Homo sapiens: one gene and its partners. The protein of the gene in region 2 purifies or fractionates together with the protein of the main gene of each other region. This does not show direct contact. Each region holds a gene or a part of one and is shown on either strand. Other genes may lie near its edges.

Region 1 (7,625 bases), on a different chromosome or scaffold from region 2:
TGTGCTGTTAATCACTACATCAAATTGACCCTAACGAGGCACTTATTTGCAGCCAGCACTGAGCTTAATGCTTTACATATGATGATAAAATTAACAAAAGAACCAGGTTAAGAAGTATTGTTTATCTTCTGGTTTTGCAGATTTGGTCATACAGAGTCCAGACTTGAATCTTGGTGTTTCTAGAGTCCTGTCTACATTCTTAGGCACCTTGCTTTATGAAGGATTCTGACGAATCCTGCCTTTCTCACTTAATTTTCCATAAATTAACCTGTGAACCTCAGTTTTGTCATCTGCAAGTGAAGGTAATACCTATCCTCTAGTGTGGCTCTAAGGATTCAGTGATAAAAGTGCGCACAAAGTTGTCAGACATAGTACTGAATGCCAAACATTTGTTGATGGTGCTGGTGCAGATGTTAGTGTGTTGGTTTGCTTACACCCAATGAGACTGACTTATTGTTACCCTTTATTTCATGAGAAATTCTCCTTATGGGCACTGAAAGATGGCAAATCTTCTTTGGCAGCTTTAGGAATCATTAAAGAAATGATTCTTAAACAGGGAGTGGAAATTAGAGTCACTTATGGAACTTTGAAGTATATTATTTGATGCATTTATATCATTTCCGGTCTCTCTCCAGTCACTTTTCCAGACTGTTTCCAGATCTTCTTTTGCTTCTTAATGATTGTGCTTTGAGAGCAAATGATGCAAATTGAATCTGATTTTCCATTTTAGCAAATCACCTTAATAGTGACTTCTTTTTATCTCCTAGGCCTACAACCCCTGAAGGTTGGCTCATTAGGTCTGGGACACTGCCTTGAAGATATATACTTAAAAGCACTACGTGTGATTCTGATTTGTACTCTAGTAGAAAACTGCAATATAATGTACCTCCTCAAGACAGTCAGAATGCACGTGACTTATGCAGGTTAATGGCCCTGAGGAGTGTCTGCCTACCAGATCCTTAGACCAAGTGAGAGTTAAGAATCTGGGGAACTATTCAGAAGCACTAGAACTGCCCTACCTGTGGTAAAATAACTAAATAGTAATACATAGCAGGAAGTCCAAGATTATAGGATTGTATGACTGGTCATTAAACATCTCCAGTGTCAGCATTTGATTTTTTGAGATCATAATAATTCTGTGATCTTCAACATAACTAACCATTACTTTTCTGTTCTTTTATATAAATGTGGTTAGGAAGGTAAATTAAGAAAATTTTATGAGAGGAAGTTGAACTGAAAATACTGTTACTTGGCTGTAATATTTCAGGTTGAATACGGACACTAATGAAATAGAATGTAATGATAAAAGCTTTCCAATTCTTACCATTCTTATAAATTTTTATAAACTTGTTACAATACTCAAAACAGTTGTGTGGAAAAGCTATACTAGAAAACAGAGGGTGGAAAAATATTTCTGATACATTTTATCAAATTTTGGCTATTCACTTCTCCTTACCTGTCTTTCCATGTCAGGCTTCTATGCCTGGGTTGTTCCGTTATCCTAATGCGTAGCTGCCTCCTAGACCTTCTTGACTCCAAAATTCTTTTTTTTTTTTTTTTTTGAGACGGAGTCTCGCTCTGTCACCCAGGCTGGAGTGCAGTGGCACTATCTCCGCTCACTGCAAGCTCCGCCTCCCGGGTTCATGCCATTCTCCTGCCTCAGCCTCCCGAGTAGCTGGGACTACAGGCGCCCACCACCATGCCCGGCTAATTTTTTGTATTTTTGGTAGAGATGGGGTTTCACCATGTTAGCCAGGATGTTCTTGATCTCCTGACCTCGTGATCCACCCACCTCGGCCTTCCAGAGTGCTGGGATTACAAGCGTGAGCCACCACGCCCGGCCCAAAATTCTTTTATTTACCGATATGTTAACAATGTATTCATTCAGCAAGTATTTATCAAGGGGCTGTTATGTCCTCTAGGATCTTAGGATAGTATCAGTTGAACATAGAAAGTTGGTGGCTAGAAGATAACCAGTGCCCTTGTCACCATTCTGCCAAGGATCATAGCTTGTTAAATTGAGGAGCCACATATATTTATAACATATTCGTCATTTTTCTTAGATTTTAGTATCATTTTGAAATGGCCTAACACTTTATAAATAGTTGTACTTCTCCTTTATCCTAGATATAAACCACAGTACTTCAGGATCCCATTATGAAAATTCCCAGCGGGGACCTGTGTCTTCTACAAGTGATTCTAGCACAAACTGTAAGAATGCTGTTGTAAGTGACTTGTCGGAAAAAGAAGCATGGCCCTCAGCCCCTGGCAGTGATCCGGAGTTGGCTTCAGAATGTATGGATGCTGATTCTGCCTCCAGTTCTGAATCAGAGAGAAACATCACTATCATGGCTTCAGGGAACACAGGTGGTGAAAAAGATGGCCTTCGGAATAGCACTGGACTTGGTTCCCAAAACAAGTTTGTAGTTGGTAGCAGCAGCAATAATGTGGGCCATGGAAGTAGTACTGGGCCATGGGGTTTTTCCCATGGAGCCATAATAAGCACATGTCAGGTCTCTGTGGATGCTCCTGAAAGCAAATCTGAAAGTAGCAACAATAGAATGAATGCTTGGGGCACTGTAAGTTCTTCATCAAATGGAGGGTTAAATCCAAGCACTTTGAATTCAGCTAGCAACCATGGTGCCTGGCCAGTATTAGAGAACAATGGACTTGCCCTAAAAGGGCCTGTAGGGAGTGGTAGTTCTGGCATTAATATTCAGTGCAGTACTATAGGCCAGATGCCTAACAATCAGAGTATTAACTCTAAAGTGAGTGGTGGTTCTACCCATGGTACCTGGGGAAGCCTTCAGGAAACTTGTGAATCTGAAGTAAGTGGTACACAGAAGGTTTCATTCAGTGGTCAACCTCAAAATATTACCACTGAAATGACTGGACCAAATAACACTACTAACTTTATGACCTCTAGTTTACCAAACTCCGGTTCAGTGCAGAATAATGAGCTGCCTAGTAGTAACACAGGGGCCTGGCGTGTGAGCACAATGAATCATCCTCAGATGCAGGCTCCATCAGGTATGAATGGCACTTCCCTTTCTCACCTTAGCAATGGAGAGTCAAAAAGTGGAGGCTCTTATGGTACTACATGGGGTGCCTATGGTTCTAATTACTCTGGAGACAAATGTTCAGGCCCTAATGGCCAAGCTAATGGTGACACTGTGAATGCAACTCTAATGCAGCCTGGCGTAAATGGTCCTATGGGCACTAACTTTCAAGTTAACACAAACAAAGGAGGTGGTGTGTGGGAATCTGGTGCAGCAAACTCCCAGAGTACATCATGGGGAAGTGGAAATGGCGCAAATTCTGGAGGAAGTCGAAGAGGATGGGGAACCCCTGCACAAAACACTGGCACTAATTTACCCAGCGTTGAGTGGAACAAACTGCCTAGCAATCAGCATTCCAATGATAGTGCAAATGGCAATGGTAAGACGTTTACAAATGGATGGAAATCTACTGAGGAAGAGGATCAGGGTTCTGCCACATCTCAGACAAATGAGCAAAGCAGTGTGTGGGCCAAAACAGGAGGTACAGTGGAGAGCGATGGTAGTACAGAAAGCACTGGACGCCTTGAGGAAAAAGGAACTGGGGAAAGTCAGAGTAGAGACAGAAGAAAAATTGATCAGCACACATTACTCCAAAGCATTGTAAACAGAACTGACTTAGATCCACGTGTCCTGTCCAACTCTGGTTGGGGACAGACTCCTATTAAGCAGAATACTGCCTGGGATACAGAAACATCACCTAGAGGGGAACGAAAGACTGACAATGGGACAGAGGCCTGGGGAAGCTCTGCAACACAGACTTTTAACTCAGGGGCATGTATAGATAAGACTAGCCCTAATGGTAATGATACCTCATCTGTATCAGGGTGGGGCGATCCCAAACCTGCTCTGAGGTGGGGAGATTCCAAAGGCTCAAACTGCCAGGGGGGGTGGGAAGATGATTCTGCTGCTACAGGAATGGTCAAGAGCAATCAGTGGGGGAATTGCAAAGAGGAGAAGGCTGCATGGAATGACTCGCAAAAGAATAAACAGGGATGGGGTGATGGACAAAAATCAAGCCAAGGGTGGTCTGTTTCTGCCAGTGATAACTGGGGAGAAACTTCAAGGAATAACCATTGGGGTGAGGCCAATAAGAAATCCAGCTCAGGAGGTAGTGACAGTGACAGGTCCGTTTCCGGTTGGAACGAACTTGGTAAAACTAGTTCTTTCACTTGGGGAAACAACATAAATCCAAATAATTCATCAGGATGGGATGAATCTTCTAAACCTACTCCTTCCCAGGGATGGGGAGACCCTCCAAAGTCTAATCAGTCTCTAGGTTGGGGAGATTCGTCAAAGCCAGTCAGCTCTCCAGACTGGAACAAGCAACAAGACATTGTTGGATCTTGGGGAATCCCACCAGCTACAGGCAAACCTCCTGGTACAGGCTGGCTGGGGGGACCTATACCAGCCCCAGCAAAAGAAGAAGAACCCACAGGCTGGGAGGAACCATCCCCAGAATCTATACGTCGCAAAATGGAGATTGATGATGGAACTTCAGCTTGGGGAGATCCAAGCAAATACAACTACAAAAATGTGAACATGTGGAACAAAAACGTCCCAAATGGCAACAGCCGTTCAGACCAGCAAGCACAGGTACATCAGCTGCTAACGCCTGCAAGTGCCATCTCAAACAAAGAGGCAAGCAGTGGCTCTGGTAAGTTTCTATTTTATGAAATCAAGCCTTGTTTTAACTTACTGTTATTATAAGATTTGTATAACAAAGTACTTGGATATGCACACAAAGGCTGTTCTTACTGTAATCCAGAAGCAGCTTGAAAAAAATTATAGGGGTGATGTTTACCACCAGAGAACAGAACTCCACTTTTGGCAGTGTTGTTTGAGTCCTGCACACTTCATTCTCTATTAGAAATGCAAGAGAAGGCGAATTGGACAAAGGCGGTCAAGTGGGAATGCTGTACACTTCTCCAAGTTGTTTTTGAGTTAGGCCTTAACTTGTGGTTTTATTATTTGACTAAAATATCTCCAGAAATAAAACAAGTATCTCATAAATACAGTACTCTCTAAACATTAGGTTGTATATTTGGCTTTAGAAGGGATTTTTTTTTTTAAGTAGGTGAGAAATCCAACTCTACTTAGATACAGTATATATGTTTGTGTATTTAAAACATTTGACAATACCTTTCTAGTATATCCTTACTTTCCTCTCTAATAATGAACTAATTCCTATCTCTGCAAATTTTCCCAACAACATTTTTGTTAAGTGTGATTGGCTACATTGTCTTTGTTAATAAAAGTTTTATTGACTTAATAGTCTCATTGGAAGTGGATATGGGAGTGCTTTCATGAGCTAACTTTTTGGCACTGAATTTTTTTTTTTTAGTCTAAGTATAGTTTGTTGTATTAATTTAGGTTTGATTCTTAAAAGGAAGAAGTATGTATCTAAGATGAAGCCTGTTGGCTTTGATTTTTTTTAATGAAACATTTATGGCTTTTTTTTTTTTTTTTTTTTTTTTTGCTTTGGACAACCTCAGCCTAATACTTCAGATTTTAAAATAAGCATTGTTCAGCATATGTAAAAAGTAGGTGACCCATTATTGTTAGCTGGGTAGTAAATTGTTTTTCCAGTGTAGGTGGTGTGGAAGGGGTACACTTGTGGCACAATTTTTTTTTTTTTTTTTTTTGGAGATGGAGGCTTTCTCCGTCACCCAGGCTGAAGTGCAGTGGCATGATCTCGGTTCACTGCAGCCTCCACCTCCCAGGTTCAAGCAATTCTCCTGTCTCAGCCTCCTGAGTAGCTGGGACTACAGGTGTGTGCCACCACGCCCAGCTAATCTTTGTATTTTTAGTAGAGACCAGGTTTTGCCATGTTGCCCAGGCTGGTCTCAAAATCCTGACCTCAGGTGATCCACCTGCCTCAGCCTCCCAAAGTGCTGGGATTACAGGCATCAGCCACTGTACCCAGCTGGTACAGATGTTATACATACACTGTCACCCAGCTTATCACCTGCTCCAATTTACAAGGTTTGGTTTAGAATGACTTGACTTTTTCAGGAATTAAACTGATGCTCAAAGGAGAGTGGTTTTCCATAACTATGCAAAAATCAGCTCTAGGTCTAGAGGGTAATTATGAAAAAAGTTAAAAAAATTCTCACCTTATATTAATGGGAAATAGTTTGTCTTTTTTTAACATAAAACAGATGCCATCTTTTTGCCTATCACAGTATCATTATTCAGTACATAAACATGAAGTTCTTCATCCTTGGTCCCTAAGTTTTCTTTATTGTCCCTTATTCCACTGCACCTCCTTACCTTCTATGCTGATGACTTCTTTTCCCACACTTTCTAAAGGCTGGGGTGAGCCCTGGGGGGAGCCTTCTACTCCAGCCACAACTGTGGATAATGGTACTTCAGCATGGGGTAAGCCCATAGACAGTGGTCCCAGCTGGGGGGAACCCATTGCTGCGGCATCCAGCACATCCACGTGGGGCTCCAGCTCTGTTGGTCCACAAGCATTAAGCAAATCTGGTAAGTTATTGACAATGCCTGGTAGCTGTTATGTAGCAGTGGCGAACACTCACTGACTATAATTAAATAATTAGATAAGGTTTCTATGTTATTTATAATATATTCATATAATGTAACATGATAGATGATGTTCAGTATTTTGCTCTTTGATTTTGTAACGTGGTTTATTCTCTTTCTGAATTTTCCTCTTTTCTCATATTTCTTAGAACTGTAACTATTCATTTGCATATACTTCATCAAATCTAAATTATATTTTACCAAATTAGGTTATCTAGGAAGAGTCTACTAGCAACTTTCATGCCATCCAGCCTGAGAGGCCAACTAGTGTAGCCATGAGGACACATATTCAGACTGTCAGATGATTCCCTGAAAGTTACAATTAGCATAGTTCAGAAAAGACCCAAGATTGAAATTAACATTGTCATTATCCCATAGGCTGTGTACAAGATGCCCGGTAGGAATCCCAAGGGCCATGTGTGAAGATAAGATGCTTTCTGCTTAAGGCTTTGAATACTCTCTGGCCATTCTCCCTAAAAATATATATAAAAATTAATTCTTTCAAATTTCATTCATCTTCTTTGTCCTGTGCATCACTATGCAGATTATTAAGTGGGTACAAACAAGAGTGCTACCATTGTCCATGTTCAAGAACTATGATTTGTTAAAGGCATGGAGGAGTTTTATTAAATTTTTAAATAAGAATATATTATTTTTCATGGAAGGTTTAGCTCAGTATAAAACATACTTTCCTTCTGTGCAGATGCAGGAAGGGAAATAAGTGTGCACGTGTGTGTTTTCTTAGGTTCTCTACCCAATTTTTAATATATACTTATTCTCCAGAAGGAATTCTTTTATTAAAGTATGTTTCTCTTTATATCACAAATCCACAATCAGGGCCAAAATCTATGCAAGATGGCTGGTGTGGTGATGATATGCCATTGCCTGGAAATCGCCCCACTGGCTGGGAAGAGGAAGAGGATGTGGAGATTGGAATGTGGAATAGTAATTCATCTCAAGAGCTTAACTCATCTTTAAATTGGCCACCATATACAAAGAAAATGTCATCGAAGGTAAACATTT
Region 2 (7,625 bases):
TCAAGCTGCTTTAGAATACGAAATTATAGGGCTCCAGAATATACATTATTCCCCAAGTTTATCTCTAGAACTTCTATCATCAGGAAATATATTATCAATTTTCTATGGTATATGTAAATCTCTCATTATAATAGATAAAATAAAATGGCAAAGTTCAATACTTCACTTTAATTTTTAGTCTGCTATAGTTCTCAAATCACAGTAACTTACTTACTTGTAAAACTGGCCTGGTCTGCACTGCCCTCATAATAGCTGGATCTTCTAGTTCATTTTCAATCACCATCTTACTGAGCCTTTCTGCCAGATTCTCCTCATGGTCACCCAACAAGTCCATTTCATCTCTCTCTCCATTGCCTGTTTGTTCATTAACTGCCACTGGTAGCTTTTCTTCCAATTCAGCCAGGCGCTCATGTGCTTCCTGCCAATCATCATCTATAAGATGACACAGTTCATGTAAGAAATAGTTCATAGTGGTACAAAAAAGTTTTACACAATTATTGTTTTTTTTTTTTTAGACAGAGTCTCACTCTGTCGCCCAGGCTGCAGTGCAGTGGCGTGATCTCGGCTCACCGCAACCTCCACCTCCCGGGTTCAAGCAATTCTCTGCGTCAGCCTCCCAAGTAGCTGGAGTAGCTGGGACTACAGGCGCCCACCACCACACCTGGCTAATTTTTGTATTTTTAGTAGAGGTGGGGTTTCACCATGCTGGCCAGGCTGGTCTCAAACTCCCGACCTCAAATGATCCACCCATCTCGGCCTCCCAAAGTGCTGGGATTACAAGCATGAGCCACCACGCCCGGCCTACACAATTCTTCTGCTAAGCAAATGAATAATTCCAGAAGATAGGTAGAAAGTTAAGTTTACACTTAGAAACAGGAAATAAGGTTTAAACTAAGGGACACGTAAAGCATGCTTTTTATAAGTAAAAGCAAATAACATTATACCAGGAATAAAATTCAAACATGTGAATTAATAGCTTAAAACATTATCAATAATGTCCAAACTATATTCTGAAACTGTTTCCCAAATTGGTGATAGATATGTATAGTACTACTAGTTGGTTTTGAGATTCTATGACATTTCAAGCAAAAACTTTAAAGGGAAGTTAAAACTCATAGCATTAGCATACAACTTCCTCTTAGATTTTAAGTGCCACATTCTTTACATGCTTTTGAATCCATTCGTTCCATTCAATTAATATTTGGTAAGCATCTATTATGTGACAAGCCCTGTTTTAGACGCATGGGATACATTGGTGTACAAAAAGACACAGAGATTCTGCCTTCATAACACTTTCATGCAAGCAGGAAAGAGAGAGATGATAGACAATAAGCATAATGATTAGATACTATACCAGAAGATGAAATTGCTGTAGGAATATAAAGGAAGAAAGGCAGATTGAAAATTTAAATAGATGGTCAGAGGTAGGCCTCATTGAGAAGATGACATTTGAGCAAAGATTCTAAAGAGTAAGAGGGTTAGCAATTTGGATATCTGGGAGAAGAGGGTTCCAGGCAGAGGGACAGTCAGTATAAAGAAAGGCCTTAAGGTGAGAGATTGATGGTTTTGAGAAACGGCAAGGAGGACTGTGTCTGGAATGGAATGAGCAGGGTGGGGAGAGTAGAAGAAAATGAGGTCAAGAAGTCATGAGGAGGGAGCTCATTCTGGGCCACTATGATTGAAATGGGAAGCCAATGGAAATTTTCATTTGGCTTAACTTTTAAAAGAATCACTCTGGCTGCTGTGCTGAAAACAGGCTAGGGAAGAGGAAGGGGCATTTCCTCTTTTATCTTAACTATGTCTGCTATTACTGCACACTACTATAAAGTCTGTAGCACTGACATTAAGGTTGTTTCTGCATTTGGTATGTTGGCATCATTTTTTCTGTTTTGGAATCCCATTACAGCACAGATTACAATCTTCAGAACCCTCTATCAGCTGCTCTGGAGCTAGACCTTACTTCCAACGCATCTCACTCCAGTTCTCTCCAATCTTATTCCATTCTGCTTCCATCATGAAAGCTGTACTCACAGTTTTGCTCCATTCAGTATTTTTATTTTTATTTTTTGAGACAGGGTCTCACTGTCGTCCAGGTTGGAGTGCAATGGCGTGATCTGGCTCACTGCAGTCTCAACCTCCCGGGCTCAGGTGATTCCCCCAACCTCAGCCTCCCAAGTAACTGGAACTACAGGTTTGTACCACCACACCAGGCTAATTTTTATATTTTTTGTAGAGTCGGGGTTTCCCCATGTTGCCCAGACTGGTCTTAAGCTCCTGGGCTCAAGCAATCCACCTGCAACAGCCTTCCAAAGAGCTGGGATCACAGGCTTGAGCCACTGCCTCTGGCCTTTCTTTTCAGGTATTCAAATGTGAAACTTCTTCCTCCTCCTCAATGGAGCTACTCCTAAATAATCCTTTCATTTTATTTCTTCCTTTACCTCATCTCTATATGCATTACTTTCTAACCCACAAAAAGTATTATTTTGTATATGTTATATGGTATTCTTTTTTTAGTTACATCCTTTATATGTTTTATAAAATTCAACAGACAGGGATAACAGGTTATAACCAACACAGAAACAGAGACTTTCTTTTTTCTGCTTTCAGAGAAAATACATGTTTAAAAAATTCAAACACCATAAACACATGTAACTTAAGTGAAAGTTCCCCACAATTCCACAGCTGTGTTAAGTTTTAAACAGTTTTAAGCTGTGTTAAGTTTATAAAGTTAACTTGTTTCTTTTTATTTAAGCAATATGTCTTGGACATCTTTTCATGCATGCACACAGGCATAACTACTGATAGTAACTCATTCTTTTTAATACCTACATAAGATTGCATTTTATTGCTAAACTATAATGTAATTTATCCCCTACTGGTAAACATTTGGATTATTTACAATTTTCCAATATAATAATTAATACTGTAATAACATCATACATATCTTAGCATTTTATGTGACTATTTAAATAAACTAATTTCCTTTTAGAATCAGATTACATTAACAGTTAAAATTTGCTATATATATGTAATTTTTAATCATACAACGATGTATCACATAATACTAGTGATCCAAAGAGTGAGGGAAGTGGGACTTTCAAATATATAATTTTGGTATCATAGGACCCACTGCCTAGTTTGGTTGATTTATGTATTAGTTGTGGTAAGGGATTCCTTAAGTTGTGGATCACTGTGCCATCACTGGGATAAAGACTGTGGGCAAAAGCTATAAAAATATCCTTACTTAAGCCTCCGGGACATGGGTCTTCTTTATAATTATGTGGTATTTTCTTTCCCACCCAATAGTTTCCTCTTACCTGAGTGACTAGTCAGGTGGCACTCTTCCTCTAAACTGTCATCTTACAGAAAAGAATTTAAGGTAGCCATTTTATGATGATGGTCTCTGATAAGCCTATCCTGATGTGCTCCAAAAAATGGAAAAATCCACTTTAAATGAAAATTACAGTGTTAATTTAAATGACTAGTCATATGAAAGAAAATATTTAAAGAATAATGTAATTAAAAACCAAATGTGACATTCATATTTGTGTCATCCTTGGTAAGGAACAGTAAGCTGGGACAGGATAAATTGTTTTTTGCAACTTTACTAACTTAGCAATGCCACAAGAGTGGGAATCTATCATCCTGAATTGAGGGATTTGTAAAAACATTTACTTCCCAAATTTAAGAAGTTAATTTGTTAGTGGATTTGTTCTAATGCAGTAGAGTTCTAATTTGCATGCTTTTCTATCACTACTTCCAGTATTCATGCTTGCTAACTTTACCAAATCCTATCAAATATGGATAATCTATTTCCCCTTAATAATAATATTTTAAAAATATTGGTTAAGTCGCCATATTCTGTGAGAATAGATCTCTGGTGAATTGATTGTTACATTTTCAAACATGTAACCAGAGGAATCTATGCCATAAAATACCATCATCATCATTTTAGATTTTTCTTACTCTTGTAAAAAATTATCTGAAGTAGTATTTTAGAGATATTGTGCCCTTACTATAAAACAATATTTCACCCTGTATCTTTTTCAAATGACCTAAAAATATAGTTACTTAGATATGCCAGTGCTTGACCTGAGTCCATTATTGGTCAAAATGATAAAAGGTAGGCAAAAGAATAACAGACAAATGAAGGGAAAGAGATTATCCGTAATAACGAACTAACCTATACTCTGATACGGGTTACTGAATTCCTGGCTGCTTCTATAAACTTATACTTGTAATAACCCCTGAAGCCTGTCTCAGGGAGTTTTGAATGAAAACAAAATAAAAAGGAAGAAGTGATTTAATTTTAAGGCAATCTCAATCTCTAAAGACTATAGTAGCTATCAATAAAAGGGAGGTAGGAAGGAGGGTGATTCCTTCCAAGTGGAGGCAGGAGATTTCCAAAGACTCCCCCAAAACTATTAAACATAACTAGTAGTTTACAGTAATTGTGTCTATAGTTACTTAACCCGTCACTCTTCCTCATTTGTTAAAATGAGGATAATAATAGTACCTATCTCACAAGGCTGCTATGAGGATTAACAATATATGTAAAATATTTAGAATGGTGCCTAGCACATAATAAGCACCATGTTAAGTGTAAGCTTTTATTTTTAGAGAAGGAGTTGGGATTACTGCAACACTATTTATTGCTCTAAGATGATGCAAACATTTTTTCATGCAGAAGACTAGTTTCTTAAGGAAAGGTGACCATTTGTAGCCAGTGACCTAAAATGTCTACTGTAATAGCAGGTATTATTCCAGATGCCCGCTATATGAATTAAAAATCATAAAATCAAAACAAATGTCAAAGGTCTGACATTTCACCTCTTGATTTAAACTCTCTATACCAGCTTTATATCAACCTGCAGAGGAGTATCAAAGAAGTCACAGGTTGACTTGGAAAACAATTTTCTTTTTATAGTATTTACACCAAGCTGTTATGAGGAATTAAGATCTTCACTTTACAATTCCAGTACATTACACTCTCAAGGGAAAGGGCTCACCTTTGGAAATCTTTTCTCTATATTATTATAAACTTTCTTGGCCAAAAAATCCTTTCTAATCACCCTTTGGCCCTAAGGTACAAAGTGGGCTAATCATATGCTATTTAATTGCCTTAACTTTGTACTACCTGTTCTTTTACTGTGTAAACCTAATGGCTTTTTCAGCACGTGTACACTTTTCTTCTTTCCCATCATATAAAATACCGTTCCGGACACTCTAACATCCTTTTAAGGCAATATTATTCCCATCTTATGAGAAAAAATAGAAACTCAGGAAAAAAAGACTGTCCATAGCACTCTGGAAGTCAATGAGAAGGTATGACTCTTCCTCTTCTGTCCAGGTTGAAAACTGAGAACATGGTACAATGCTGCCTCATTTTAATGTCTATAAATCAATTCTAGCTAATTCATTTTAATACTGAAGAATTTGTTGAAAAAATGGTTAACATTCAGTACAGTATTTTAATAGAAAAAGAGTTCTAGAAACAAGCACATGTTGGTAGCTTCTATGGTATTCTATTTTTAAAGTATTTAATTAACTTTTTAGAGACAAGGTCTCGCTCTGTTACCCAGGCTGGAATGCAGTGGCACCATCATAGCTGATGCAGCCCTGAACTCCTGGGCTCAAGGGATCCTCCAGCCTCAGCCTCAACCTCCTAAGTGGTACATACCATCATGCCTGGCTATTTTTCAAAAAAAATTTTGTGGAGAAAGAGTCTCACTATGTTGCCGAGGATGGTCTTGAACTCCTGGCCTCAAGTGATCCTCCTGCCTTGACCTCCCAAAGTGCTGAGAGCTGTGGGCTTGAACCACCACAAATAGCTTATTGTGTCCTACTGATTATCACTAAACTATCTTCCAAATATAATTTGCAATTCACATCAGTTTCCTGCTTTTGTAATTCCACTCTACATCTCTTTGCCTGTGATCTCCATGGAGAGAGATAATAGCATCTTGGATCATGTTATCCTCCTGGACAATCTCATCTCCTAACCCATGCCTATAATCCAAAAGGTCTTTGATTCCTTTCCATCATGAGTCTAGCTTCTACTTTCAACACTTTTCTTGCTGCTTCTAATCATAACAAAGTTTTAGTTCTCTAATGAATTTTACAAATGACTGACAATATTAAAACACCTTCATTTTTGCCAGTTTATTCAAGTCAGTCTAAGCTTTAATAAATGTATTAGGTCACTGCAAAACCAGTGACCATTATAATACTTTAAGGCCTCTTATTTGTTTTTGATATTCAACATCTTGGGATTACTGACTATTGCTAAATTTTCTCTTTTTCCTTATGACTTAACTTGGAGTATTTGTTGCACAGACAGAAGTGTTGCGACTACAAAAGAATCACACACATTTATACATTTGAACATAAACGCTGTTATTGCTGCTTTCCAGCACCAAGTCTAAGCAAACATATCTGCATTGACTCTTACCTATTCATTTGCTTAAAAATATACAGTTTTGGCCAGGCGTGGTGGCTTGCACCTGTAATCCCAGCACTTTGGGAGGCTGAGGAGGGATCACTTGAGGTCAGGAGTTCATGACCACCCTGGCCAACATGGAGAAACCCTGTCTCTACTAAAAATACAAAAATTAGCCGGGCGCTTGTGTTCTCAGCTACTTGGGAGGCTGAGACAGGAGAACTGCTTGAACTGGGGAGGCAGAAGCTGCAGTGAGCCGAGATCATGCTACTGCACTCCAGTCTAGGTGACAGAGCAAGACTCTGTCTCAAAACAAATATATGTGTATGTATACAGTTTAAAAATTTAAATTTCAATTTATTACTCCACTTGTTCTACACCTGTTCTAAGTAACATGTGTTCTCAAACTTTATCATATAAGCTTACTTCCTAAATTTTCCATCTTGGCATTTATAACCCCGTGGCCTGTAACCTTAGTTTGGCTCTTCAGTTTTTAAACTTTTTCCAACTCTTAAAATATGTATCTATAGGCTGGGCGCGGTGGCTCAGGCCTGTAATCCCAGCACTTTGGGAGGCCGAGATGGGCGGATCACGAGGTCAGGAGTTTGAGACCAGCCTGGTTAGCTCGGTGTGGTGGCGGGCACCTGTAATCCCGGCTACTCGGGAGCCTGAGGCAGGAGAACTGTTTGAACTCAGGAGGCGGAGGTTGCAGTGAGCCAAGATCGTGCCACTGCACTCCAGCCTGGGTGACAGAGCAAGACTTCATCTCGAAAAAGAATAAATAAATAAATAAATAATATGTATCTATACCCAGGGATGGACAAAATTTCATCTGTGCATACTTTTCTAACTTATGAGTCCTTTCTTGACCCCCAAAATTCTTGCTATAAAAAGCTTTATATTTTGAAGATACTATAAGTTGCAAAGTTATATACTAGTGATAGACTAAATTTTGAAACACATATACCCACATCCTAGAATCTGAATTTTCTACTAGTACACTAGTTTTCCATAAGTTATATGTTATACAAATAAAAATTCCTCTCATCTAGGATTAATTTAAATCTCTCTTAAATGTTTACTTCTCTAAACATTTGAATCCCTCATAGGGGCAACCTGTAGTCATCGATCATATAGCTGGAAGGGGCAAGGCTTACAGAATACCTGATTTTATAGGTAAGGCAAA
Region 3 (7,625 bases), on a different chromosome or scaffold from region 2:
GCAGATCACCTGAGGTCAGGCGTTTGAGGCCAGCCTGGCCAACATGTTGAAACCTCGTCTCTGCTAAAAATACAAAAATTATCCGGACGTGGAGGTGCATGCCTGTAATCCCAGCTACTTTGGAGGCTGAGGCAGGAGAATCCCTTGAACCCAGGAGGCAGAGGTTGCAGTGAGCTGATATTGTGCCACTCCAGCCTGGGCGATAGAGCGAGACTCTGTCTCAAAAATAAAATAAATAATATAAAATAAAACCATAGTTGTGTTGGTGGTATGATGGTGAGCATAGCTGCCTTCCAAAACCATAGTTAATTCACTAGAACTGTTCTTCTCCAACATATTTACTAGAATAATGTTACAATAGCGAATCATAACATTCACTGGAATCTGTTATGCTCCTTAAATTAATATGAATGTTGTTTTAAAAAATTACTTCCAAATGCCAAACTATTCTTATTTTACTTAGATGGTTTTGTACTCACAGATGGTAGCAGAATGTATTAGAAATTTTAAGTGAGAGGCTGGGTGCAAGTGGCTCACACCTGTAATCTCACTACTTCAGGAGGCTGGGGCAGGTGGATCGCTTGAGCCCAGGAGTTCGAGACCAGCCTGAGCAACATGGCAAAACCCCATCCCTACAAAAAAAAAAAAAAAAAAAAAAAAAAAATTAGCTGGGCGTGGCAGCGTGCACCTGTGGTCCCAGCTACTCAGGAGGCTGAGGTGGAAGGATGGCTTGAGCCAGGGAGGCGGAGGTTGTGATTAGCCAAGATCATGCCACTGCACTTCAGCCTGGGTGACAGTGTGAGACTGTCTCAAAATGAACAACCAAAAGAAATTTTAAATGAGTATTCATTAACTCATTTAAAATTATAAGCTAGAGTCATGCTATGGCAATACCTTCTAAAAGGCACAATTTAGAGTGAGCTAGGTCTCTCTAGACCCCACTCAGAAAGTTTATTACATAAAATTCCGGATACTTCTTGCTACCATTGTTGCTCCTCACACTGTGGTCCTGGTGGCAATGTAGTAAGGTTTTAGTGTGCTGGGTGAATTCTATTAGTAGCTTGTGGTGTGACACCTGTGTCAGGGGCCAACATTTTAAGTTTTGGAGATGCCTGATTCAAGTGAATAAACAACTAAATTAAAACTAATTTTTTTTTTTTTTTGAGATGGAGCCTTGCTCTGTTGCCCGGGCTGGAGTGCAGTGGTGTGATCTTGGCTCACTGCAACCTCCACCTCCCATGTTCAGGTGATTCTCCTGCCTCAGCCTCCCTAGAAGCTGGTACTACAGGCACTTGCTGCCATGCCCGGCTAATTTTTTTTTTTTTTTTTTTGAGACAGAGTTTCGCTCTTATTGCCCAGGCTGGAGTGCAATGGCGTGATCTTGGCTCACCGCAACTTCCGCCTCCTGGGTTCAAAAGATTCTCCTGCCTCAGCCTCCCGAGTAGCTGGGATTACAGGCATGTGCCACCACGTCTGGCTAATTTTGTATTTTTAGTAGAAACGGGGCTCCATGTTGGTCAGGCTGGTCTCAAACTCTCGGCCTCCCAAAGTGCTGAGATTACAGGCATAAGCCACTGCGCCCGGCTAATTTTTGTATTTTTAGTAGAGATGGGATAATGCCATGTTGCCCAAGCTGATTTCGAACTCATGACCTCAGTTGATCTGCCTGCCTCGGCCTCCCCAAGTGCTGGGATTACAGACGTGAGCCACTGCACCTGGCCTAAAAAAATGTTTTAATGTATGTAATATACAGTTTCAAGGTAGTTTCCTTTGGTGCATATGAAACAACTATCTGAAATGACGATGTTTGCAAATATGAGACTGAAATTCAGTTGTGACTTCTGTATCCTTAGAAAAACTGTAGAATGCTTGGATAGAAAATGATTCTTTCCATTTAGACTTTAACCTTTTTCTTTCTTTCTTTCTTTCTTTCTTTCTTTCTTTCATTCATTTTTGAGACAGGGTCTTGCTTTGTCACTCAGGTTGGAATGCAGTGATACGATCACAGCTCACTACAGCCTTGAACTCCCAGGCTCAAATGATCCTCCCACCTCAGCCTCCTGAGTAGCTGGGACTACAGGTGTGTGCCACCATACCTGGCTAGTCTTTTTACTTTTAGTAGAGACAAGGTCTCACTATGTTGCCCTGTCTGAAAATCTTTTTTCTTTTAGCAGAAATTGTTGATTTGTTAGAAGTTCAAATAGGCAGTTTATAATCTTCCGTGCACTTGAAGATGACCCTTATTAGCAATTCATATTATTTTTTTCTACACATTTTTCCCCGTTATTAACGTCTTACATTTGTATGGTATACTTGTTATAATTATTGAACCAATGTTGATGCATTATCATTAAACAAAGTCCATATTTTATTCAGATTGCCTTAGTTTTTACCCGGATGCCCTTGTTTCAGGATCCTGTCCAGCATATCACATCATATTTGGTAGTCATTTCTCTGCTTGGCTCTTACAGTTTCTCAGACCTTCCTTGTTTTTGATGACCTAGACATTTTGATGAATACTGGTCAGGTATTTTGTAGAATGTCTCTCAGTTGGTACTTGATGTTTAAATCATGATTAGACTGGGGTTATATGTTTGGGGGTGGAAGACAACAGAGGTAAAGTACCATTTTCATCACCTTGTGTCAAGTGTATATATTATCACCATGGTTTATAACTTTTGATGTTCACCTTGATCACCTGGCTAAAGTAGGATATATCTAGTTTCTCCTCTGTAAAGTGACTCTTTCTTCCCCTTTACATATGTACTCTTTGGAAGGAAATCACTATGTGCAGCCCACACCCAGGGAGTGAGAAGTTATGTCCCCTCTCCTTGAGGACACAGCATCTTCAGACATTACTTGGAATTCTTTTATGCCAGAGATTCCTCTCTTCTCCCCCATTTGTTTATTTATTCAGTCATTTATTTATATCAGCATGTACTCATGGGTATTTATTTTATACTTTGGCTTATAATTCAATATTACTTTATTTTGGTACTCAAATTATTTCAGTTTTGGCTAGTCTCCAATCTTTCACTTGGATCTCATGTCCCTTTGACATACTCCAATCATTGTGGATTTTATTTTTTTTTTTTTTTAGTACTTAGGTACTTTCTCACACTGAAAGATGCTTACTACTACCACTACTACTACTACTACTGCTGCTGCTGCTGCTTCTCCTCCTCCTCCTCCTCCCTCCTCCTCCCTCCACCCCCTCCCTCTCCCCCTCCCTCCTCCCCCCTTCTCCTTTCTTTCTTCTTCACTAGGGATGCTCATTGCTCCTGGGTGTCACCCTTATAGCTGACAGCAAGAAAATGTGTATACTTCTCTGCAGAGTTCACAGAAAAGAAAATATATGTGTGTATATTTAACCAGCATATATATACATATTTAAATATTTCTATATGTAACTATGTATATTGTACTATACTAAGTATGAGTTCATACTGATGTCTCCAACTTTAATCCATTACCACATGGATCCTTCTAGCCTTCTCCTTTTGCTTGTCTGTTACTTCTCACTCCAACAGTGAGAAACCTGTCTCCTATTGTCATTCATTCTTTACATAATTATTCAATTCCAGTATACATGTATAGTGGTATCAGAATTATTAACTTGTATCGCCATTCCTGTGGGAGACTATCAAACAGAATGTGGTGCTTACGTACTGTTTCTTTTGCCTTTCATCTGACTCCATTCATTTCTAGAGTTATTTAGGTCTCCCATTTCCTTCATTGACTTGTTTCATATATTCATAATACAATTAATTTGTTTTATCACATTCTGCATTCCATCCTGGGATCTTCTAACCTCCTAAATGATTTTTAAAAATTTGCAAACACTAAGGCTCACTCTTTGTGCTGTAAAATTCTGTGGGTTTTGACAAATACATAGCATCATGTATCTGTCATTACAGTATTAAACAGAATAGTTTCATTGTCCTAAACAATCTCTTGTGCCTTACCTGTTCAACTTCCCCCACTTCCCCCTGGCAACTACTGATCTTTTTATTATACCATCCCTGCAGTTTTGCATTTTTCCAGAATATCACATAATTAAAATCATACAGTATGTAGCCCTTTTCAGACTGGCTTCTTTCACTTAGCAAGATGCATTTAAGATTCATTCATGTCGTTTTGTGACTTGATAGGTCATTTCTTTAATTGACGGATAATGTTCCATTGTGTGGATATATCAATTTGTTTACCCATTCACCTATTGCAGGACATCTTGGTGGCTTCCAGGTTTTGGTTATTCTGCTTTTGCTGTTTTGTCAGTTTCCTTTTTCTAGATTGTTAACTGTACATAAATGAGGTAAAGAGATCATAGGGCAGTAAAATGTTACTATTTTTCAAGAAACTTATGTAGAATCCAGATTAGTTTGGAAAATGTTTGTGGCCTGGGAATGGCAATAAGACGTGGCTCAGAATAGGTTTCTGATAGAAGGTAGAGTTATAATTATTTTTCCACTCATTGAGCCCTGTAAGTAAAAAGGTCTGCCTTAGAATTTTCTCCAGTTTATGTACATTGATATTGAGACTAGTAGATTGATGAAGCTATAGAAATATAATCTGTCGGCCGGGTGTGGTGGCTTATGCCTGTAATCTTAACACTTTCGGAGGCTGGGACGGGCAGGTTGCCTGAGCTCAGGAGTTTGAGACCAGCCTAGGCAACATGGTGAAACCCCGTCTGTACACAAATACAAAAAATCAGCTGGGTGTGGTGGTGGGTGCCTGTAATGCCAGCTACTCAGGAGACTGAGGCACAAGAATTGCCTGAACCTGGGAGTCGGAGGTTGCAGTGAGCTGAGATTGTGCCACTGCCCTCCAGCCTGGGCAACAAAGCAAAACTCTGTCTCAAAAAAAAAAAAAAAAAGGAAAGAAAGAAATATAATCTGTCTTCAGTTCTGGCTTTTAAGTGTTCTTTCAGGATTGCAATAAGGAGTTGAGGAATTTGTTGGTTTATAATAGTTAGCTAATCCAACACTGATGATTTAGCACAAGCAGATTTTAATCTCTTTTCGGGTGGGAGTGGGTTTAAAGAATCATGTAAAGAATAGTTTTTCTGTGACCATTCAGAATGTTTGTCAAATAGACATAACATCAGTCCCAGGGAGCAGAGGGAAACCAAGCCTTGTTTAGGGTGCAGCTCTGTGTATGGGTATAATTCATATTTATCAAATCCCATGTCACAGCTGAAAATGGTGACCATGAGGGGCAGATGAAAGGCATCCCTCTCTGAAATCTTAGTCTATGAGCTTGAATAGTCATTGTAACATGCAGTTGAATAAAAATTTAACAGTTAAGTTAAGGCTCTTTTGCCTGTAGAACATGAAAGTAGATAGCTGAGGCTGGGCATGATGGCTGATGTCTCTAATCCCAGCACTTTGGGAGACTGAGGTGGGCAGATCACCTGAGGCCAGGAGTTCGAGACCAGACTGGCCAACATGACGAAACCCTGTCTCTACTAAAAATACAAAAAATTAGCTGGGCCTGGTGGTGCATGCCTGTAATCCCAACTACTTGGGAGGCTGAGGCAGGGAGAATTGCTTGAACCCGGGAGGTGGAGGCTGCAGTGAGCCGAGATCGTGCCATTGCACTCCAGCTTGGGCAACAAGAGTGAAACTGCATCTCAAAACAAACAAAGTAGATAGCTGGCCTTTAACTCATTTATATTTAGAGAGAGGTGGTCCTATAGGCATGACAGTGCCTCTGTTTAGTGCTGATTTCCCTTTTTCTCTTTGTTACTGGAGGTGGAGAGAAATGAGGGATGGAATTGAACCTTTTAAATGGAAAGATGGTCGATATTATCTTGTTGCAGTATGGTTGGGCTTTAACGGTCTGTTCATTTTAACAGTCATCCCACCACCTGAGGCAGGAAGTGAATTTTGCCAGGTTTTCATGGTTCTACTGAGGTTTTCTTGACTTTTAAACTTCCTTGGATGTGCTTCATATATCTAATAGGCTTGAAAACCCAGGGCCTAGAATTTGAGAGTTGAGAAGAAGGTCCCATATATTCTCAGGCACCTTCTCATGATGCCTGTTTAATCTGGCAGTAAAACATTTGTAGTTTAACATTCAGGTACCCTTTAGTGTGATAAGTGCAGGACAAAGTTCCCACTTACAGTGTGTGTGTGACAAAAACCAATAAATAAGTGGCACTGAGGGTTACACAACAATGGGTTTGTTACAAGTTGTCCTGGCCAAAGGGCCTCTGTGCCAAAGGGTGGCAGAAAAACGGCACAGGAAGGCAGCCAGCCTGCAGTACTTGCATGGCCCTTGTAATTGAAAGGTAAAGAAATCTGGGAAGACTGTTTGTCTTTTCCAAGGGAAGTGCTTTTCTCTCGCAGTGGCCAAAGGCCAGTTTAATGCAGAGCCAGGCCCTTTGGGATGAGTAAGCCAAGTACTGAGACAGCTTGTTCACTCAGGACTTCCTAATATTTGTATTAAAGTATGAGGAAAGGGAAGAATAAGAGACAACTGAGCACATTAGCCTGCCTTGCATTTATTTTATGTTCTCTTATCTTTCTCTTACTGACCTGTGATGTCAGTATTTCCTCTTGGGAAATATTTTTCACACTCTGCTTTCCTGACAGTGTTTAGAACATAGCTAGTCCTTAGTGTCTATGTCTCAAATGAATGAATCAACTCTGCATTTAGAGGAGTACAGGAAAACACCTGAAACCTTCTTCATACAACATCTCTGGGTTTTGTTGTAAGTTATGTTTGTAGAGTCCTACAGTTGAGCCAGAAAATGATGACCAGTGCCCAGCATCATTAAGGCAGAATTAAGGCGTCTCCCACTGTGGACCCTGTTAGTCTTTATAGTGGGGCACTTTGTCAACATGCTGTGAACGAACTTTACAGCTAGTCATGTTTGTTTTCTTTACTTTTCTACTTTGCATTTCAATAGCTCCTCATCATGTGGCATGATATGAAGTGGGTACTATTTATTAGCTTTTTTTTTTTTTTTTTTGAAACTGAACAAAAGTTTTCTTTCTATGCTGCACTCTCTCCTCCCAAATAAAAGTTGCGTATCTCTTAACGCAAAACGCTTGGGACCAGAAGTGTTTCAGATTTTGGATTTTTTAAAAAGGATTTTGGAGTATTTCTGGAATACATACCAGTTGAGCATCCCTAATCCAGAAATCCAAAATGCTCCAATCAGCATTTTCTTTGAACATCACGTTGGCGCTCAGAAATTTTTGGATTTTGGATGTTTGGATTAGGGATGCTCAGCTTGTGCTTTTGAACATTCATATTGGTGTTCAGTGGTTAGCGCACTGCTTAGGGCTAACAAATACTGGGCTAGTGGTTAGAGAAGCAACTTATGCTTTTCTTTTTCTTTTTCTTTACATTTTATTTTTTATTTATTTATTTATTTTTTGAGACGGAGTCTTGCTCTGTCACCCAGGCTGGAGTGCAGTGGCGCCATCTCGGCTCACTGCAACCTCCACCTCCTGGCTTCAAGCGAATTCTCCTGCCTCAGCCTCTGGAGTAGCTGGGATTACAGGTGCCTGCCACCACACCTGGCTAATTTTTGTATTTTTAGCAGAGACAGGGTTTCACCATGTTGGCCAGGTTGGTCTCGAACTCCTGAGCTCAGGTGATCCACCCGCCTTGGC
Region 4 (7,625 bases), on a different chromosome or scaffold from region 2:
AATGGGCCAGGAAAAGCCAGGATAAAGCTATGTTCCCCGACCTCGAATGGAAGCTTCTGGCTTTCTCTAAATGGGTGCTCCAGAAAGACAAATGCTGGGGAGAAGATGATATTCTTTGATGGTGATCATGCTTTATGATGATCTTTCTCCTTTTGTACCCACATGTCTAATCTATTCTAAGTCTCAAGTGGGTTTTTCCTTTTTTCAAAAAATTTTTTTGGAGACAAAGACTACCTCTGAAAGTGTTTTTCCTTTCTAAGTGTGTTGGATCATCTGTACCTATTTCCCTGGCTGTCACCTGTCTGGCCCTCTTCCACGTGATCCTGTTGCCAGCCCTAATCAGGACAAACCTGAATGACTAGACTATTTTGTGTCCCTGTCCTCCTCCAACCCCTATTCCTCACATGAGTGTCAGATCCTATTCAGTAACGGATTTGATCTGGATTTGGCTCTAGTCCTAGCTCTTCCATTTACTGTGAGACCTCAGGCAAGTCACTTAATGCTATGGGCCTGCTTCTCCCCATTTGTAAAATGAGGGGCTGATGATCTGCAATGTCCACCCTGGCTGAATCTTGGTCGCTACCTTGCTTAGAAACCCCATTGCCTGTGGTAGCTTGTTGCAGCAGATCTGATTTCTTTCATGTGCTCCCTTGGGCAGCCTGCCAGTTATTCCCTTGTCCAAGTCACTTCTGCCATTATCTTTTTTTCTAGCTGAGGCAGCCAGCTTGTTCTCAACCCAACTTCAGCGTTCTTCTTGCTTCCATGTCTTCTTCCAGTTCCATGCTGTATTTCATTCAGAACTACCTGAAATCCTCAAAGAAGTCTTCCTGAGTTCTCCATTCAATGTTTGTGACTTCTCTGCCTTACCAAGAAGGAGTCTGTACCTTATATACCCCGTATTTACTTGTCAGTTCTCTTATCTAATGTATACTTAAAAAGGGACTTCATTTCCTCCATACCACAGCTTTGTTTTTTGGTTTGAATTAGCAGGGCAGGTGGCATGAAATTTAAAGAGGAAGCAAGCAGGTTGTTTGCCTTTGGCTGGGATTTGGGGAAAGTATGAGATGTAATGTTTTTAGTCCCCTTCCCCAAGATCTCCTGTATCTGTGGGAATCAGTTGCCTGGTATGTCTTCCTGGATTGTAAAGGTGCTTAAACTTCCTTTCTGAAGTTTGAAAGTGTATCCTAAGTGCAAATACCATTTGACAATTACTCGTGGTTGGGTGGGTGCAGTGGCTTACGCCTGTAATCCCAACACTTTGGGAGGCCAGAGTGGGAGGATTGCTTGAAGCCAGGAGTTCAAGACCAGCCTGGGCAACAAAGTGAGATTCCTGTCTCTACTCCCCCACCAAAAACAAAAAAGTAGTCAGGCATGGTGGTGCGTGCTTGTAGTCCCAGCTCCTTGGGAGGCTGACGAGGGAGTTCAGAGTCTGCAGTGAGCTAGGATTGTACCACTGCACTACAGCTGGGTGACAGCACGAGACCCCATTGCTTCCAAGTGCTCTTCTAGGAACACACAGCCACAAAACCCAGAACAAGGAATTGTTAAGGATAATGATAAGAAATCTGTATTTCAAATAACTTAACAAATGAATAAAACCAACAGTTCTTTGAGAGCACCTGATTATTGTCAAAGACAGTTGCTGAGGGGGCTTGGAAGTCAGGACTTAAAGGTATATTTAACCTCTGGAGTTTTCTTCTTTCATCATCTTCCTAAGAAATAATAGGGAGGATGTTTACATTTTTCTTGATAAAGTCTTTTTATTAATTTTATTTATTTATTTATTTTGAGAAAGGGTCTTGCTCTGTTGCCTAGGCTGGAGTGTAGTGGCGCAGTCTTGGCTTACTGCAACCTGTGCATCCTGAATTCAAGCGATTCTTGTGCCTCAGCCTCCTGAGTAGCTGGGATTATAGGTGCGCACCACCATGCCCAACTAATTTTTTGTAGTTTTAGTAGAGACAAGGTTTCACTATGTTGGTTAAGCTGGGACATTTTTCTTGATAAACATTCTTTAAACCAAAATGTATGCTTAGTCAAGATCCTTGATTGGATTATGAGCCTAGAGAAAAGGAGGGTGATGTCTTTGTCTAATCCATCTTTGCCAGTGACTGCCCCTTACAGGCTATTGACTATAGGGTAACCTAATGAAAATTGAGACAGGCACTGTGGCTCACGCCTGTAATCCCAGCACTTTGGGAGGCCAAGTCGGATGGATCACCTGAAGTCAGGAGTTCAAGACCAGCCTGGCTAACACACAGTGAAACTCCGTCTCTACTAAAAATACAAAAAATTAGTCAGGCGTGGTGGCAGGTGCCTGTCATCCCAGCTACTAGGGAGGCTGAGGCAGGAGAATGGCTTGAACCCGAGAGGCAGAGGTTGCAGTGAGCCGAGATTACACCACTGCGCTTCAGCCTGGGCAACAAGAGTGAAACTGTGTCTCAAAAAAAAAAAAAAAAAATTGAACCCTTAATTTGTAATAATGCTTTGACAACTTTGCTAGATCTTGGGCTAGGTCCTACCTGGACCTTCCTCTCTTTTGCCAAATAATGGAACTAATGAGCTGGCAGAAATCCTGTACAATTTTAGAAGCCTAATATGAGTGACTAAATGTAAATAGGACAGTTTTAGGAAAGAGTGGTGGAGCCTGAATCAGTGAACTTTGGGGAAGGAGCAAGAGGAGGGGCTTGGGATTTAAACAAAGGGTTTTTTTTTGTTTTGTTTTGTTTTTTGTTTTTTTTTTGAGGTGGAGTCTCACTTCGTTGCCCAGGCTAGAGTACAATGGTGCAATCTCGGCTCACTGCAACCTCTGCCTCCCGGATTCAAGTGATTCTCCTGCTTCAGCCTCCCAAGTAGCTGGTACTACAGGTGTGTGCCACCTCACCCTGCTAATCTTTTATATTTTTGGTAGAGACTGGCTTTCATCATATTGGCCAGGCTGGTCTCGAACTCCTGACCTCATGATCCGCCTGCCAGGGCCTCCCAAAGTGCTAGGTTTACAGGTGTGAGCCACTGCGCCTGGCCTAAACCAAGGTTTTTATTCAGTGATAGTTTATTCCATGTCAGGAACATAATTCTCAGATTTTAAAGGCTGACTTCCAGGTATCTTAGAAGGATATTTGGGGGTCTCTGTCCTAGTAGAGACCTGATTTTCAAGAGGTCTCTTTCTCATATGGAAAAAGTCCATAGCTGGTGGATTGACATTCCTTTCTTTCTTTTTTTTTTTTTGTTGAGGCGGAGTCTCACTCTGTCGCCCAGAAGTGCAGTGGTGCAACCTCGGCACACTGCAACCTCTGTCTCCTGGGTTCAAGCAATTCTCCTGCCTCAGCCTCCTGAGTAGCTGGGATTACAGGTGCCCGCCACCATGCCTGGGTAATTTTTTGTATTTTTAGTAGAGATGGAGTTTCACCATGTTCGCCAGGCTAGTCTTGAACTCCTGACCTCAAGTGATCCACCCGCCTCGGCCTCCCAAACTGCTGGGATTACAGGCGTGAGCCACTGTGCCCGGCCAATGCCTTTCTTGCTTCTACAGGTGCACAGGTGTTGGGATTTCGAGGTTGTGGAAACTTGGTCTGGAAATGTGGGCATTTTACAATAATGATAACTATAGCTAGCATTTTTGGAGCACTGTCTTAAATGTCATTGAATCCTTACATCTGACCTATTATCCTGTCCTAACAGAGGAGGAAACTGAGATGAGTAATTTGTCCAAGGTCATTTGGCTAATAAGCAGGGCCTCGATTGGAGTCCAGGTTTCTTTGCCTCCTGTCCCAGTGCTCTTACATCCCTCTCTCTCTAGCTAACGTGCTTTTTCCCCTAGAAATTTGAGTAAGTCATTTTAACTACAAATCAAACAGGTGGCAGCCTGGAAACCAGCACTGAGGCACTTTGCCACCCTCACCCCAGATTTCTTTTTTTTTTTTTTTTTTTTTTGGGACGGAGTCTCACATTGTTGCCCAGGCTGGAGTGCAGTGGCACAATCTCAGCTCACTGCAAGCTCCGCCTCCCGGGTTTACGCCATTCTCCTGCCTCAGCCTCCTGAGTAGCTGGGACTACAGATGCCCTCCACGATGCCCGGCTAATTTTTTGTATTTTTAGTAGAGACAGGGGTTTCGCCATGTTAGCCAGGATGGTCTCGATCTGCTGACCTCATAATCCATCCGCCTCGGCCTCCCAAAGTGCTAGGATTACAGGCATGAGCCACCATGCCTGGCTCATTCTTTTTTCTTTTTTTTCTTTTCTTTTTTTTTTTTTGAGACAGAGTCTGACTCTGTCTCCCAGGCTGGAAGGCAGTGGCATGATCTTGGCTCACTGCAGCCTCCGCCTCCCGGGTTCAAGTGATTCTCCTGCCTCAGCCTCCTGAGTACCTGGGATTACAGGCGAACACCACCACACCCGGCTAATCTTTTATATTTTTAGTAGAGACGGGGTTTCACCATGTTGCCCAGGCTGGTCTTGAACTCCTGATCTCAGATGATCCACCAGCCTTGGCCTCCCAAAGTGCTGGGATTACAGACATGAGCCACTGGTGCCTGGCCCTTTTTTTTTTTTTTTTTTTTTTGAGATGGAGTTTCACCTTGTAGCCCAGGCTGGAGTGCAATGGCACGATCTTGGCTCACTGCAACCTCCGCCTCCCGAGTTCAAGTGATTCTCTTACCTCAGCCTCCCAAGTAGCTGGGATTACAGGCATGTGCCAACACGCCTGGCTAATTTTCTGTTGTTAGTAGAGATGGAGTTTTACCATGTTGGTCAGTCTGGTCTCGAACCCCTGACCTCAGGTGCTCCACCCACCTCGGCCTAAAGTGCTGGGATTACAGGCGTGAGCAAGATTTTATTCTTTTTTTTTTTTCTGAGATGGATTCTTGCTCTGTCACCCAGGCTGAAGTGCAGTGACACGATCTTGGCTCACTGCAACCTCCTTCTCTGGGGTTCAAGTGATTCTCATGCCTCAGCCTCCTGAGTAGCTGGGATTATAGGCCTGCACCACCACATCCGGCTAATTTTCATATTTTTGATAGAGACGGGTTTCACCGTATTAGCCAGGTTGGTCTCCGCCCGCCTCAGCCTCCCAAAGTGCTGGGATTACAGGCGTGAGCCACTGTGCCTGGCCTTCATTCTTGACCATGCAAAACATCCTTTAATTGTAGAAGCCCAGTTCTCCCAACTCAAGCTGCCTTTCTACATTTTTCTTTCTTCTTCAATTTTTGTTGTTGTTGTTGTCGTGGTCAGATACACATAATATAAAATTTGCCATTTTAACCATTTTTAAGTTATATAGCTTACTGGTATTAAATAATGTTGTGCAACCATCACCACTCTCCATCTCCGTAACTCCTCAAAATTGAAACTCTGGGCCGGGTCCAGTGGCTCATGCCTGTAATCCCAGCACTTCGGGAGGCTGAGGCAGGTAGATCACTTGAGGTCAGGAGTTCGAGGCCAGCCTGGCCATCATGGCAAAACCCCATCTCTACTAAAAATACAAAAATTAGCTGGGCGTGGTAGCACATGCCTGTGATCCCAGCCACTAGGGAGCCTGAAGCAGGAGAACTGTTTGAACGCGGGGGCGGGTGGAGGTTGCACTGAGCCAGGATTGCTGCACTGCACTCCAGCCTAGGTGACAGAGCGAGACTCCATCTCAAAAAAAAAAAAAATTATAACTCTGTACCCATTAAACACTGACTCCCTCTTTCATGAACCTCCTCCCAGCCCCAGCAGCTACCATTCTACTTTCTGTCTCCATGTTTTTGAATACTTTTCTGCCTTTTTTGAGGCTCCTGGGCATGACTGGTTTGGGTTGCTTGACTGTCCCTTGGTTCCATGGAGTATTGAATTCTGTGTAATGTGCTTTGATGAGTAGGAAATTGGTCGTGCTGTGACCTATATGATAATTAGACATGTGCAACTTGTAAAGGCAAGGTAATTAAAGAGGCCACTTTTCTTTTTCTTGTTTTGTTTTTTTTTTCTTTTTTTCTTTTTTTTTTCTTCTCTTTTTGAGACATTCTCACTCTGTTCTCCAGGCTGGAATGCAGTGACATCATCTCAGAGCTGACTGCAACCTCTGCCTCCTGGATTCAAGCAATTCTCCTGCCTCAGCCTCCCGAGTAGCTAGGATTACAGGCGGATGCCACCATGCCCGGCTAATTTTTGTATTTTTGGAAGAGATGGGTTTTCACCATATTCGCCAAGCTAGTCTTGAACTCCTGACCTCAAGTGATCCACTCTCCTCGGCCTCCCAAAGTGCTAGGATTACAGGCCACTGTGCCTGGCCAAGAGGTCACTTTTCATGTCCAGGCTGCATGGTATGTGGTGGTGAGGATGTAGGATTTGGAGGTGGAATGCCTGAGTTTGAGTGCCTGTATTTGCCACTCTCTTGGGGCCAAATGTAATTTGGGCATATGGCTTAAACCTCTTGAACCTTTCATTGTGTTATGCACATTGGAGGCAGAACTTTCCAGCCTAGCAAGTTACTTAACCTATATGAGCCTGTTTCCTCACCCAAGTATTATCATAACTGTCTGACATCAGTCATTGGAAATATCAGTAAATGTTACCCTTTCCCTCCATTTCCTAATCTGTAAAGGAAATTAAAGAAACCTGGTTTGGCTGGGCACAGTGGCTCATGCCTGTAATCCCAGCACTCTGGGAGGCCAAGGCAGGAGGACTGCTTGAAGCCAGGAGTTTGAGACCAGTCCTGGCCACAGAGTGAAACCTCATCTCTATAACACAGAAAAAAAAAAAATTAGTTTGGCATGGTGGTGCACGCCTTGTAGTCCCAGCTCCTTGGGAAGCTGAGGTGGAAGGATTGCTTGAACCCAGGAGTTCAAGGCTGCAGTGAGCTATGATCCTGCCACTGTACTCCAGTGTGGGTGACAGTGAGAGCCTGTGTTTAAAAATAAAAAAAAGAAAAGAAAAAGAAAACATAGTTTATAGAGTTTTCCTGGCTTGAAGATTTATGAGGAGTTGAGTATATGTTACCATTATTACTTTTGTTTTATTCCTCTCAGAAAATGTGTGTAAAATTCCTCCATGGGCCCTTCAGTGGGCCTTGTTAGTTTGTATTTCATCCATAACTTTATCAGTAGTGTATGCCAAAGAAAAAGACTCTTACTTTTTTTTTTTCTTTATGATGGACTCTCACTCTGTTGCTCAGGTTGGAGTGCAGTGGCACAATCACAGCTGTCTTGCAGCTTCAACCTCCTGGGTTCAAGGGATCCTCCTGCCTCATCCTCGTGAGTAGTTGGGACTACAGGTGTATGCCACCGCGCTTGGCTAATTTTTTTTTTTTTTTTATTATTTATAGAGACGAGGTCTTGCTATGTTGCCTAGGCTGATCTCAAACTCTTGGGCTCAAGTGATTCTCCTGCCTCGGCCTTCCAAAGTACTGGGATTGGCCGGGCATGGTGCCTCACTCCTGTAATCCCAGCATTTTGGGAGGCCGAGGTGGGCGGATCACCTGAGGTCAGGAGTTCGAGACCAGCTTGACCAACATGGAGAAACCCCATCTCTACTAAAAATACAAAAAATTAGCCGGGCATGGTGGCACATGCCTGTAATCTCAGCTACTCTTGGGAGGCTGAGGCAGGAGAATCGCTTGAACCCAGGAGGCGGAGGTTGTGGTGAGCCGAGAT

The links.
Region 1: the proteins of PATL1 (region 2) and TNRC6A purify together in Homo sapiens (affinity purification with western blotting, with the first as the bait; one study listed by BioGRID). This does not show direct contact.
Region 3: the proteins of PATL1 (region 2) and EDC3 purify together in Homo sapiens (co-immunoprecipitation; one large-scale study listed by IntAct). This does not show direct contact.
Region 4: the proteins of PATL1 (region 2) and PHF20 fractionate together in Homo sapiens (co-fractionation; one large-scale study listed by BioGRID). This does not show direct contact.

The regions. Positions count from the first base shown.
Region 1 is NC_000016.10:24,787,105-24,794,729, forward strand, and holds part of TNRC6A (trinucleotide repeat-containing gene 6A protein), read left to right. Parts: intron 1-2,127; coding exon 2,128-4,713; intron 4,714-6,368; coding exon 6,369-6,545; intron 6,546-7,439; coding exon 7,440-7,615; intron 7,616-7,625.
Region 2 is NC_000011.10:59,659,038-59,666,662, forward strand, and holds part of PATL1 (protein PAT1 homolog 1), read right to left. Parts: intron 433-7,625; coding exon 215-432; intron 1-214. UniProt on the Homo sapiens protein: RNA-binding protein involved in deadenylation-dependent decapping of mRNAs, leading to the degradation of mRNAs. Acts as a scaffold protein that connects deadenylation and decapping machinery.
Region 3 is NC_000015.10:74,663,050-74,670,674, reverse strand, and holds part of EDC3 (enhancer of mRNA-decapping protein 3), read left to right. Parts: intron 1-5,966; exon of another isoform or gene 5,967-6,292; intron 6,293-7,625. UniProt on the Homo sapiens protein: Binds single-stranded RNA. Involved in the process of mRNA degradation and in the positive regulation of mRNA decapping. May play a role in spermiogenesis and oogenesis.
Region 4 is NC_000020.11:35,776,314-35,783,938, forward strand, and holds part of PHF20 (PHD finger protein 20), read left to right. Parts: intron 1-5,992; exon of another isoform or gene 5,993-6,296; intron 6,297-7,625. UniProt on the Homo sapiens protein: Methyllysine-binding protein, component of the MOF histone acetyltransferase protein complex.